Linked DNA regions of Homo sapiens: region 2 is linked to region 1. The links come from fine-mapping of genetic effects on gene expression. Tissue or cell type: whole blood. Region 1 holds a variant in brackets; the other region holds the start of a gene. All regions are shown on one strand. Distances are between the middles of the regions.

Region 1 (5,376 bases):
TATATATATATAAAATGCCTAGACAATATAGTGTGCCCTGGCCTGAATAAATGTCTGTCTAATATATTAGGTAATAGCTCTCCACTATACTTGGCATTACATAAAATCTTGGCCTTCTTGGTTCTTTGAAGATCAAACAGGTGTTACCACCCAAAGAAATATGTGATTGATTGGCACTTAATGATTTGGGCCAGTGGCTGTGAACCTTTTTAGCCTCAGTTCACATATCAGATATACCCAGATTAAATCACTACAATAATATGTAATCGTCATAACCTCATAGAGCCTATCAGTAGCTGTGGTTTGACTAGGGCTATGGCATAAATAACACAGACTGTAAGTAAGTCATGGCCCATCCAGTCATAGTGCCTGTGATTCCAACACTTCCCCTCCCTCTCAAAAATTACAGGAACGTCTACCAGCGATTGTGGAATTATTACAGGGTTATCCTTGGATCTATTTGGATTCACAGAGGAATCACTGCAAACATTGATACTTCATTATTGGTTGTAAATTAGTTGCTGCAAATTCAGTGTGTCGTGCATAGTCATGGTTTACGCTTTTCCCTTGTGGCTGAGAATATTCTAGCATGTGGTGTTGATATAGGTGGGGAATGCTTTAAAGATTGTCCAGACTGCCAGCCATGGTGGCTCATGCCTGTAATCCCAGCACTCTGGGAGGCTGAGGATCCTTGAGACCACAAGTTGAGATCAGCTTGGGCAACATGGCAAGACCCAATCTCTACAAAAAATTTAAAAATTAGCCAGGTGTGGTGGTGTGCACCTGTAGTCCTTGCTACTCGGGAGGCTGTGGTGGGAAGATTGCTTGAGCCTAGGAGTTTGAGGCTGCAGTGAGCTATGATCATGCCACTGCACTCTGGCCTGGGCAACAGAGTGAGATCCTGTCTCAAAAATTGTCCAAATCAGGGAAGTAAGGATAAGATCAAGCCTTCTACTCTAAATGAAAACATCTTAATGAGAAACTGGTCTCCAGTACACTATCCCACAAAAGGACAATGTGGGAAGACAAGCCGGGATTGAGAGACTTGTTTTCAAGGAGGGAAAGAGACGCTGTCAGTGGTTGGGTTCCACATAAGTACATCCACAGGGCTGAGAAAACAGAAATGTGGAAGAGTTGTTGGATCAATTTGGGGAGCATAAAGTAAGTGATTAAAAGCAGTTCCTTAAGACCAAAGGACAGGGTCCAACCACTTGGAATGAGGAAAAGGTGAGGGTCAAAGAGGTGAAGAAAATGAACTTCAGAATGATTTCAAGAGTGGCTATTGCATGCTAGTGGGCATCTGTTCTTCCCGTAGTTTCTGATTACGGTTAATAGCAAGTTCTTTTTCTCTCCTGTACCTTAAACAGGTTTTGCCAGCTCCAAAAGGCATCTCATCCAGCTGTTGGAAGGTGGGAGAGCTGTACACTAGGAGCTGAGACCAGGTCTGTGGAGGTGCTACCAATAGACCTCATCTAGGAGGAAAATCATGAGGGGATTCATAGCCAAATCCTCTTGACTCAGGGTAAATGAACTGTAAAACACAAACCAGAGGAAGGAAACTGGTGTGGCCCAGTGCAAGGGTGGACCAGGCACCACAAAGGGCAAAACTAACCAGGTAATAGTTGATGATTACACCAGAGTTGAGGGAGTCAAGTGGTCAAGTGCAATTTTTGTAGCAGTCAGCAAAGCATAAGTGCCTCAATCTTCTCTTGCCCTGGAGGCATCTCTCAGTTATGCTGCCTGTGCTGGGGTCATGGAAACAGTTCCCTGCTAGGAGAGGTCAGATAAATTTCTTACTCTTCAGCCTTCTAAAACGTGCCAAAAATCTCAAGAAATTACAGTGTCAGAATGTGCTACCGTTGTTATCTCAAAGCCTAGCAATTTAAGTTTTCAGTTCACCAACAATCAGTAAGTGGATTTAAGTGAGTGTTCTGTTAAGATCCTGTCATTGTGAGAGGGATGTGATTTAATAATTATTTTCCAGTTGGAAGTAAACAGATGTTTAGGGATGTTAGGCTCTGGGGATATACGTAAGACACTGGCTCTGACCTTTTATAGGAAGCTTATCTGAAACTACAGATGGTATTGACAAGCATAAGTGAATTCACTTTTTATAGGTAGCAGAATTTAAAACCCTAAGATATCAATGATTGACACATAAATTCAATACCTGGCCAGGCGTGGAGGTTCACGCCTGTAATCCCAGGACTTTGGGAGGCCGAGGCAGGCAGATCACATAAGGTCAGGAGTTCGAGACTAGCCTGACTGACATGGTGAAACCCCGTTTCTACTAAATACAAAAAATGAGCCGGGTGTGGTGGTGGCACATGGCTATAATCCCAGCTACTTGGGACGCTGAGGCAGGAGAATCGCTTGAACTGGGAGGCAGAGGTTGCAGTGAGCCAAGACTGCGCCACTGCAGTCCAGCCTGGGCAACAAAAGCAAAACTCTGTCTCAAAAAAAAAAATAAAGTCAATACCTGAACCTTTGTGGGCAGAACTTGCCCCCAGAACAACCCCATTCCCAGAAAATTTAGAGTCATTCTTAAGCAGGTCTACACATTTAAATCACCAAAGAAATACATTTATTAAAATCCCGATGGCTGGACAATCTGCCACACTGACTACATGAGAATCTGAGTGAGACCCAGAAATTAGCGCTGCTTAAAGCTCCCCAGCTGACTCGTAAAGTGCAGCCAGGATTGAGAACTACTTTAGAGATTATTGGATGTTGTGAATATTTATCAAAATAATATGCTCACTGTGTGGAATGCCTCGTTCCTGTTTGTGGTACTTCCACTGCACCAGTAACAGGAGCTGAGAAGCTAGAGGTGCATTTGCTATAGGCAGGGAGGCAGCTGAGC[G/A]GTGCATAAGGGCATGTCTCTGGAGCCACGCTGCAGGTGTGAATTAGCTTCTCCTCTTAGAACATAACCTTGGGTGAGTTACGGATATCTCTGTGCCCAGTTTCTTGGCCTGTAAGATAAGTGCTCACTCAGAGGTTCTTTTTTTTTTTTTTTTTTTTTTTTTTTGAGATGGAGTCTGGCTCCATCGAGACGGAGTTTTACTCTTGCTGCCCAGGCTGGAGTGCAATGGCACGATCTTGGCTCAGTGCAACCTCTGCCTTCTGGGTTCAAGCAATTCTCCTGTATCAGCCTCCCAAGCAGCTGGGATTATAGGCGCCCGCCACCATGCATGGCTAATTTTTTGTATTTTTAGTAGAGACGGGGTTTCGCCATGTTGGCCAGGCTGGTGTTGAATTCCTGACCTCAGATGATCCACCCCTGCTTCGGCATGCCAAAGTGCTGGGATTACAGGTGTGAGCCACCATACCCAGCCCAGAGGTTCTTGTAAAGAGAAAATTGGACCATCTGGAAGTGCTTACTAGTTACTTTTATACTTACCCTTGTTTATTATATAGAACCATAAATCTTAAAAAGGGAAGGAAGCATGGAAATCTAGTTCTACTTCCTCGTTTCACAGATGGGGAGACACGGTTTATTTTTATTGTCACGGGAACCTTTTGTCTCCTCATTCTTCAGTGTCTACCAACTTAAGTCTTACTAGTGGGTGTTATAACTACAAAAAAAAAATACGATGAACCTCTTAAAGTCCTTATCAACATAGATCATTCTGAACAACGACAAGAGTGACCTTATTTCTATGTTAAATTCTGTCTCAACCCTTAATACAGTGACCATAATGCAGTCTTCGGTTGGGGTCAGAAAGATGACATGTTAAGATAATCAACAAAGCATCTTGAAATCGCTAGGTATTGAATCTTTGTGTTTTTCTCCCCGCTGACATGGAAGAGTGTGAAAAGAGCAGATTCTCTTTTTGAACCTTTTCTCAGAGTTCTTTACACACCATCGATTTCTTTGGTTTCCTTTAGTGGGAAGGCAAGCCACAGTTTTACTGCTTATTACCTTTACTGCTGTGCAGAAGAGGAAATGCTCACAGAGCTCATCTTGCACCTGAGTTACACCATGTGTGTTAGAACGGAGTTTGTCACTGGAAGAACAAATTTGAAAACTCCTGCCTCCCACATGTCACAATAATGCATGGACTGAAAGACTATGTAAAGGCAAAAAACATACATATACATGCATTCTTCCATAGGAAGATTGGGGGACTGCCTGATGCCAAGGTGTCCTCAAATTGCTGATGGAACTGAAGTTCTGGGGTTCTTACCTGAGGAAGCCACTGGTGGTCAGGAAGTCTCAATTAGAGAAGTTAAGAGCAGTCTTTCTCAAAATTTAACATGCCTAAGACTCACCTGAGGATCTTGTTGATTCAGGTTCTGATTTAAACAGTCTAGGAAACAGCCTGAGAGTCTACATTTCTAACAACCTCCAGGTGTTGCAATACTACTGATCTATGGATTACTCTTTGGGTGTCAAGGGTCTCTAGAGCCAGTCTTTATTCAAGTCCCTATTGTGTCACTTTTTACTGTATGACCTGGGCAAGTTTAAATGCCTGATGCCTTAATTCCTTCACCTGTAAAATGGCATAAGGTATAATGGTATAAGGAATAAGATTATAACCTAGGCTTACACTGTCTTATGTCTTTCTACACAACTTCCAAACCCCTAACATCCTCAAATGTGTGGATAAGGACTGACTGGGGTGCAGTTAAGTCTGTTTATCTAAATATATAGCTTTCACCGTCTTGACAGGATAGCTGACATTTGTTGTAGGCTACTCTTACAGGCCATGCTTTTAAGATTCCTGCCCCGTGAGAAGGAAAATCCCATGACAGTGAATAGCATTACAACGGAATGGGAAACAATGTGCCAGTTCTAGTAGCTGACCCACAGAAGCAGTGACATGTTGATCTGGTTATAAAGACTTATCTAAATCAGTAATGAAACAAACACATTGAACAGGTTCAGGATGACTTAAAGAGAAGCTTTTGCAACTTGACATTTCCTTTCTCAAGCAGCAACTCAGTGTTTCTTTGCCTGTGCCTACCACGAACAACCCAAGTACTCATGCCAGAAAACACACACACATAAATTAATAAAACTCCTAAGCCACTGTGATACATATCTGTGGACTGGCTTGCTCTATTCCATACTTTTTCTAGTTGGAAGGGCTGAGGTGCTAAAAATACCTTCCCAGACTCCCTTGCAGCTAGGGTTGTACATATGAATTTTTTATTTTTATTTATTTATTTAGAGACAGGGTCTCACTCCATAGCCCAGGCTGGAGTGTAGTGGTGCAATCTTGGCTCACTGCAACCTCCACCTCCTGAGTTCAAGTGATTCTCTCACCTCAGCCTCCCAAGTAGCAAGTAGCTGCAATTACAGGCACCCACCACCATGCACAGCTACCTTTATATTTTTAGTAGAGATGGGGGTTTCAGCATGTTGGCCAAACT
Region 2 (5,376 bases), 82 kb before region 1:
TCTTCGGCATCTATGTTGAGAGTGAGAGTTTGACTCAACTTCAAGTAGGTAGGAGACAGGTGGCAGGTAGGAGCACTGAGCTAATAAGTTTTCCATTTGCGATGGGCACTTGACATATTCCAGAACAAGACTCCCAGCCTTGTTTTTCTTTATCTGAACCTCTTCCCACACAAGCATAATTTGCTTCAGTAGTGCTATACATGTAGTTGTGATATTTAAATTTAATATTATTTAGAATTTCAATTTGAGCACAATCTGTGTTTGGGATAAAGTAAATAACTCTGGCCATTCATACATCATCCACTAAACACATCTTGGGAAGACAGGAATCAATGGTCCACAGAATTACTCTTAGAAGCAAGGGGTGATATTCAGAATAGTTAACAGCTGGTGTGACATGGGGATATCCAAGCAGAGGGAGCCCTTGCTGCATCAGGGCTTAAGGGCTTAAACTTTCATTTGCCAGGTTGTGAGGAAGTTGCTTAGTCCTAGGAAAATGGGCAGGGCAGGGATGGTTGCCTGTGAGGAACTAAGGGCAGCAGCTTTTATCAACCAATTCAGAATATTTCAGTAACCATTACAGCCAAATCACCAGCTCCTGGCTGAGTACACTCTGCAGTGAGGTTCATTATACTATGCCTATAATAGTCTGGACCCCATCTCTCTGGAATAGTACATATTTTACACGAAGGGAAAAGGCTAACTTGCAACTTATTTGCATGAAAAATCACGTTGCAAGTACTTCTTAGTTTACTAGATTGTCTCCAATAGTTTCTCAACCTTATCAAGATATATTTGTTAAAACTGTGTGCTCTCCAAAATCATCTACTGAATTTAAACCACTGCACCCCACTTTGGACTATAATTGACTGGAGTTACTGATTGGAAAGGAAGTGGTACACACCCCTAATATACTGACGGACTTACTCTGACAGCTGCTACCACCTGTGGGGACCCTTGATGATGTTCACGCAGCTTTTCTGAGTGGCACATGCTGTTCTCTTGAATACTCCTTGAGGTGAAGAAGAGGCCACCCCTACCCCTATGCACACACAGCTCCTGCTCTTTCCTGGGGCTGCACCCTGCTTGTATTTCCAATGCAGGGATGTCAGATTCCAAAGAGGGCTCCCCAAGGCATTCCAGAAGGCTTCAGGCCAGCACGTCCCAACCTTTTCATGCCATGGGACCCCTTTGGCAGGCTGCTGAAAACCATGGGGTTCTTCTCAGAATAAGGGTTTTAAATACATAAAAGAAACCACAAGAGGTTACAAAAAAAGCCAATAATATTGAAATGTAGCTAACAAAATGTTTTTAAAAATTTGTGCTAGAGCAATATATATGCTTCATTATTGACATATAATATCTGGCTGATTGTCTAATAACTACTGTTATTTGAGATACTTGCAACAACTGTGATGTGATGTAAAAACCTATGGTTTCTAGTGATTACTAAGTCATAAATACTTATCCTACTGCTACTGTAGTTTGTTGTCTACGTTCATAATGGCAAAACGTGCTAAATGTCAGAGGTTGGTGAAAATTAAGACGTAAATTTTTTCTCATCCAAGTTCACAGTACTCTTGAATTAATTACCTCTCCTCGGGTTAAGAACCCCTGCAGGATAAGGTTGCCCCTAGGGCCAACACCTCACTGGAGCCCCGCCTCATGTCCTGGAGGCAGGAGCCTTCATGCCACCTACACAGAACTCGGAGCTGTCTCTTGGCCCAGCAGTTCTCCCCACAACTAGTTCTGAAAGTCCGGGGCTAGGAAAGAACGGCATCGTCGCCTGAGCTCCTGGCGCCACTTTAAACAACCCATCCTTGACTTGCGTGACTTCTTCCACAAGCTCTCCTGGTCACCTGGGCAAAATCCTAGGTGATCTGGGGACAAGGCGGAACTTCGGTTTTCTGATCTGCAAAAAGAAACACCTACCTCATAGGACTGTTAGGATGAATTGAGGTAATGGCTGGGTTGTGTACATTATACAGCACTATCAAGGTGTGCGCTGTGATCATTTTTGAGGGTTGTTAGGTGTTTGAGGACCCAGAACAGTCTACACAGCTGTAGTCCCCAAGTGTTGGGCACGCCTTAAGCGCTCCATAAACACCTGTAGAAATGAATGAATGACGTATGCATCTGCACGTGGGCCCACATCTGCAAGAACAGGCTGCTCAGGCCATGAGGCCCGGTGCATCACCTGCACTTCTCTTTATAACGGGTAGTAAAGTCTCCCTCGCTCTGTGCTACTCGGCAACCACAATTCTGTCCACAGAGGGCGGCGCAGTGGGGCTGCTTCGCCGCGAGCTCGCCTCCGGGGCTCCCACGTCGTGGCTTCCGGGCAGGTACCGGGCAGCTGGAGACGCCAGAGCCGGCGGGTAAGGTGCGGGCGGTGCGCCGGGCCGCGGGCGCGCAAGGAGGGGCGAGAGGGTGGGGAGGGGCGGGGCCGGCGTCCTCGTCACTTGATAAAACGCCTGCGAGTCTCCAGAGAACAACGGGCTCATTCAGCGGTCGCGAGCTGCCCGCGAGGGGGAGCGGCCGGACGGAGAGCGCGACCCGTCCCGGGGGTGGGGCCGGGCGCAGCGGCGAGAGGAGGCGAAGGTGGCTGCGGTAGCAGCAGCGCGGCAGCCTCGGACCCAGCCCGGAGCGCAGGGCGGCCGCTGCAGGTCCCCGCTCCCCTCCCCGTGCGTCCGCCCATGGCCGCCGCCGGGCAGCTGTGCTTGCTCTACCTGTCGGCGGGGCTCCTGTCCCGGCTCGGCGCAGCCTTCAACTTGGACACTCGGGAGGACAACGTGATCCGGAAATATGGAGACCCCGGGAGCCTCTTCGGCTTCTCGCTGGCCATGCACTGGCAACTGCAGCCCGAGGACAAGCGGCTGTGAGTTCCCAGACCCTTCCCACCCCCACTGGGGCGCCGGCCTGCGCGCGAGTTGAGGCGAGGGCGCGCCCTGTTCCCGCCGGCCCCGGGGAGTAGTTGGCCCGTGGGTCGCGCCCGGGCCGGCCGAGGCGCACCCAGCGCCCAGCGCGCTCGGCTCCCCGCCCTGACCCGCCCCGCGCGGCGCCTCCCTCCATTCAGCTCGGGAAGGAGGAGAACCCGAGGGCTAGGCTGGGCCCCGGGAGAGTTTACTTTTTTTTCTGTTTTAAACAAAGTGCTTTCCGCCGGTTCTTCCCTCCGGGCGTGTTTGCTGGGACCCCGGCAGGTGGCACGCTTTGCTGAGCTTCACGTGTGTGTTTGGGGCTGGGGTGGCGTTCAGGGTCACCGCAGCGCTGCTGTGGGTTTGCAGGGAGCGTAGTTCCAGGATGGTCTAGGCCTTTCCCAAACTCACGGTGCACCCCGTCTCCCCCGCAGACTGGCGCGCCCCGCACAAGTTGGAAAGCCACTTTCCATGTGTCCTGCATGACTTTCTCAGCAAGGCGGGGGCGCTCCTTAGGAGATACTTTTACATGCCTTTGAAAAAAAAAAAAAAAAAGATGGGGGTGGGGGCGGGAATTAACCAAACACCTGTTCGCTGGACTAGATCAGCTGAGAAAACAAGTCTGAGTGATGTGCCCAGCCCCCAAAGTACTCGGCCGCACCCGAGACCCGCTCGGCTCCTGCGTTGGGCGGGCACAGCCAAGGGGTTAAAGCAAAATGTCCGATCTGAGCCTGGACTTTGCAAACAAGGTTTGTAAGGGACAACCCCCCACCGTAGCGGTAAACCTCCCAGGAGAAAGAGGAGACCGGCACTACTGGCCTCTCCTTTTATTTCTTAAACAGTGTTTGGTTCCCACATGATCGGCTATTTAAGCCGGAGAGGGTATTTTGGCGCTTAGTCGCCTTAATCGCTATGGGGTTGCATTCTTCATCTGTGCTACTGAAAAATAGGCTGTAGCAACAAAAGGTCTCCCCTCCCCACCCAGGCCTTGAGTTGAACTAAGGACCTTCCAGGACCAACAGACCGGAGAAAGCAAAGTGCAGCCACAGTGAAGAGATTTTGTGTTTAGGAGAGGCGAATGGGATTTTAGAACTGGAGGAAACCTCTTGATTTCAGCGGTTAACAACTTTGGAATTCGTGAATGTTGCAGCCCCTGAATTTTAGTCAGTTTTTTTTTTTTTCTGATAACACCTGCTAGGTGAAGCACAGAAATTAGCTGGGGGTGGGGAGGCTCTAGGAGGGTGGTCTGAGGCTATATGCCTGGCCAGCTGCTTATACTCTGCTTTCTCTCAGAAATAATTGTTGTTAAGCTGTAAATCTGAAATGAAAGGTTCCTGTTAACTCAGTTAATAGATGACGTTTATTGTCTCGGAATACTTGGTGTGTAGAATTTGAGCTTGTTAGTGCAGAAATGATTGTGGGCCAGCAGAGGGAATTCATTCTCCTGGGCATTCTCTCTCTGCACCAGAGCCCCACTGAAACCGGTGGCTTCCTTGAAATACTTGTTCAAGCAAAAAGTGTGAAGGGAAAGTACTGGGACAAGAAATATCCTGGCAGTGGAGATTTGCGAAACGTGACTTTGCCAGGAATCTGTGTCGTGAAGGTTAGCAGCATGCTTGCTAAAACTTGTTACTGCTGCTGGGCTTCTCTGGTATTAGAGCTGAGGCAACTCCTCCCGAGGTAAGGATAAGCCTGCAATGGGGTCTGATGCCTTCTAGGAAAGCTCTTCTTAGCAGCTGACAGAGGGGAGAGGCCCCGTATAAGGAGACTGTATGTTTCCTAGAGTCCAAAGGCAGTGACCACACTTTAAAGAGGCTGTGGTTTATGTCACGTGCTGCCCACCTCCATGCTTTTGTAAAGCTTTATTCCAGCTTCAGGAATAGCATTGGTCTTCCCAGGAGAACCAGCACACACAGGCCATAGCACAGGTCAGTTGTCAACCTTTGACAGTAAAGAATGTGGGTGTAAATGGCAGAGCCAGTAAGACTGAGAAAACTTCTGGACCAGCTTCCTAAACTCTATGGAAAAACTCAGTGGGGGTCTTTCAGGGACCTGGTGGGAGAGAGACCTAAGCTGAGATTCCTTCTCGGCCTTTTATTAGCAGCTGTTAATTTACTTTGAGCTTTAATTTCTTTATCTGTAAAATGGAGATATTACTGCTTACTGGGGTTATTATGAGGATTAAGAGATAATATGCAAAGTGCTTAATGCCTGTCTGGCATGGGTACTTGCTGACTAAATGGTAGCTGTTAATGATCATTTAAAAAGCAGTAATTGTGTACCTACTGTGTGTCAGGTACCTTACAAGGTGTCTTAAACATTCTGTGATTCTAAGATTGCCTGAGAGTAAAGCCAAAGGTGGTTGTTTTTGGGTAATGATATTTTAAACTCAGTCATATTTATGAAACCCATGTTCAAAGCAACTTAACTTTAATAGGTCTTAATTAGACTTATAACAAAAGTG

The links.
Region 2: ITGA6 starts here. The variant in region 1 is fine-mapped to the expression of ITGA6 in whole blood (TOPMed, PIP above 0.99). The same link has a PIP of 0.9 or more in blood mononuclear cells.

Annotation. Positions count from the first base shown.
Region 1 is chr2:172,506,842-172,512,217 of GRCh38, forward strand. The region is part of intron 1 of PDK1-AS1 (PDK1 and ITGA6 antisense RNA 1); the gene reads right to left. Among named protein-coding and RNA genes, the nearest start is that of ITGA6-AS1, 44 kb to the left of the region's middle. The variant G/A (reference allele first, on the strand shown) is at 2,864.
Region 2 is chr2:172,425,096-172,430,471 of GRCh38, forward strand. ITGA6 (integrin subunit alpha 6) reads left to right here and starts at 2,491. Exons shown (of 26, transcript NM_000210.4): 1 at 2,491-2,875. The coding sequence starts at 2,694. RefSeq lists a silencer at 2,439-2,518 and enhancers at 3,303-3,803, 5,228-5,376.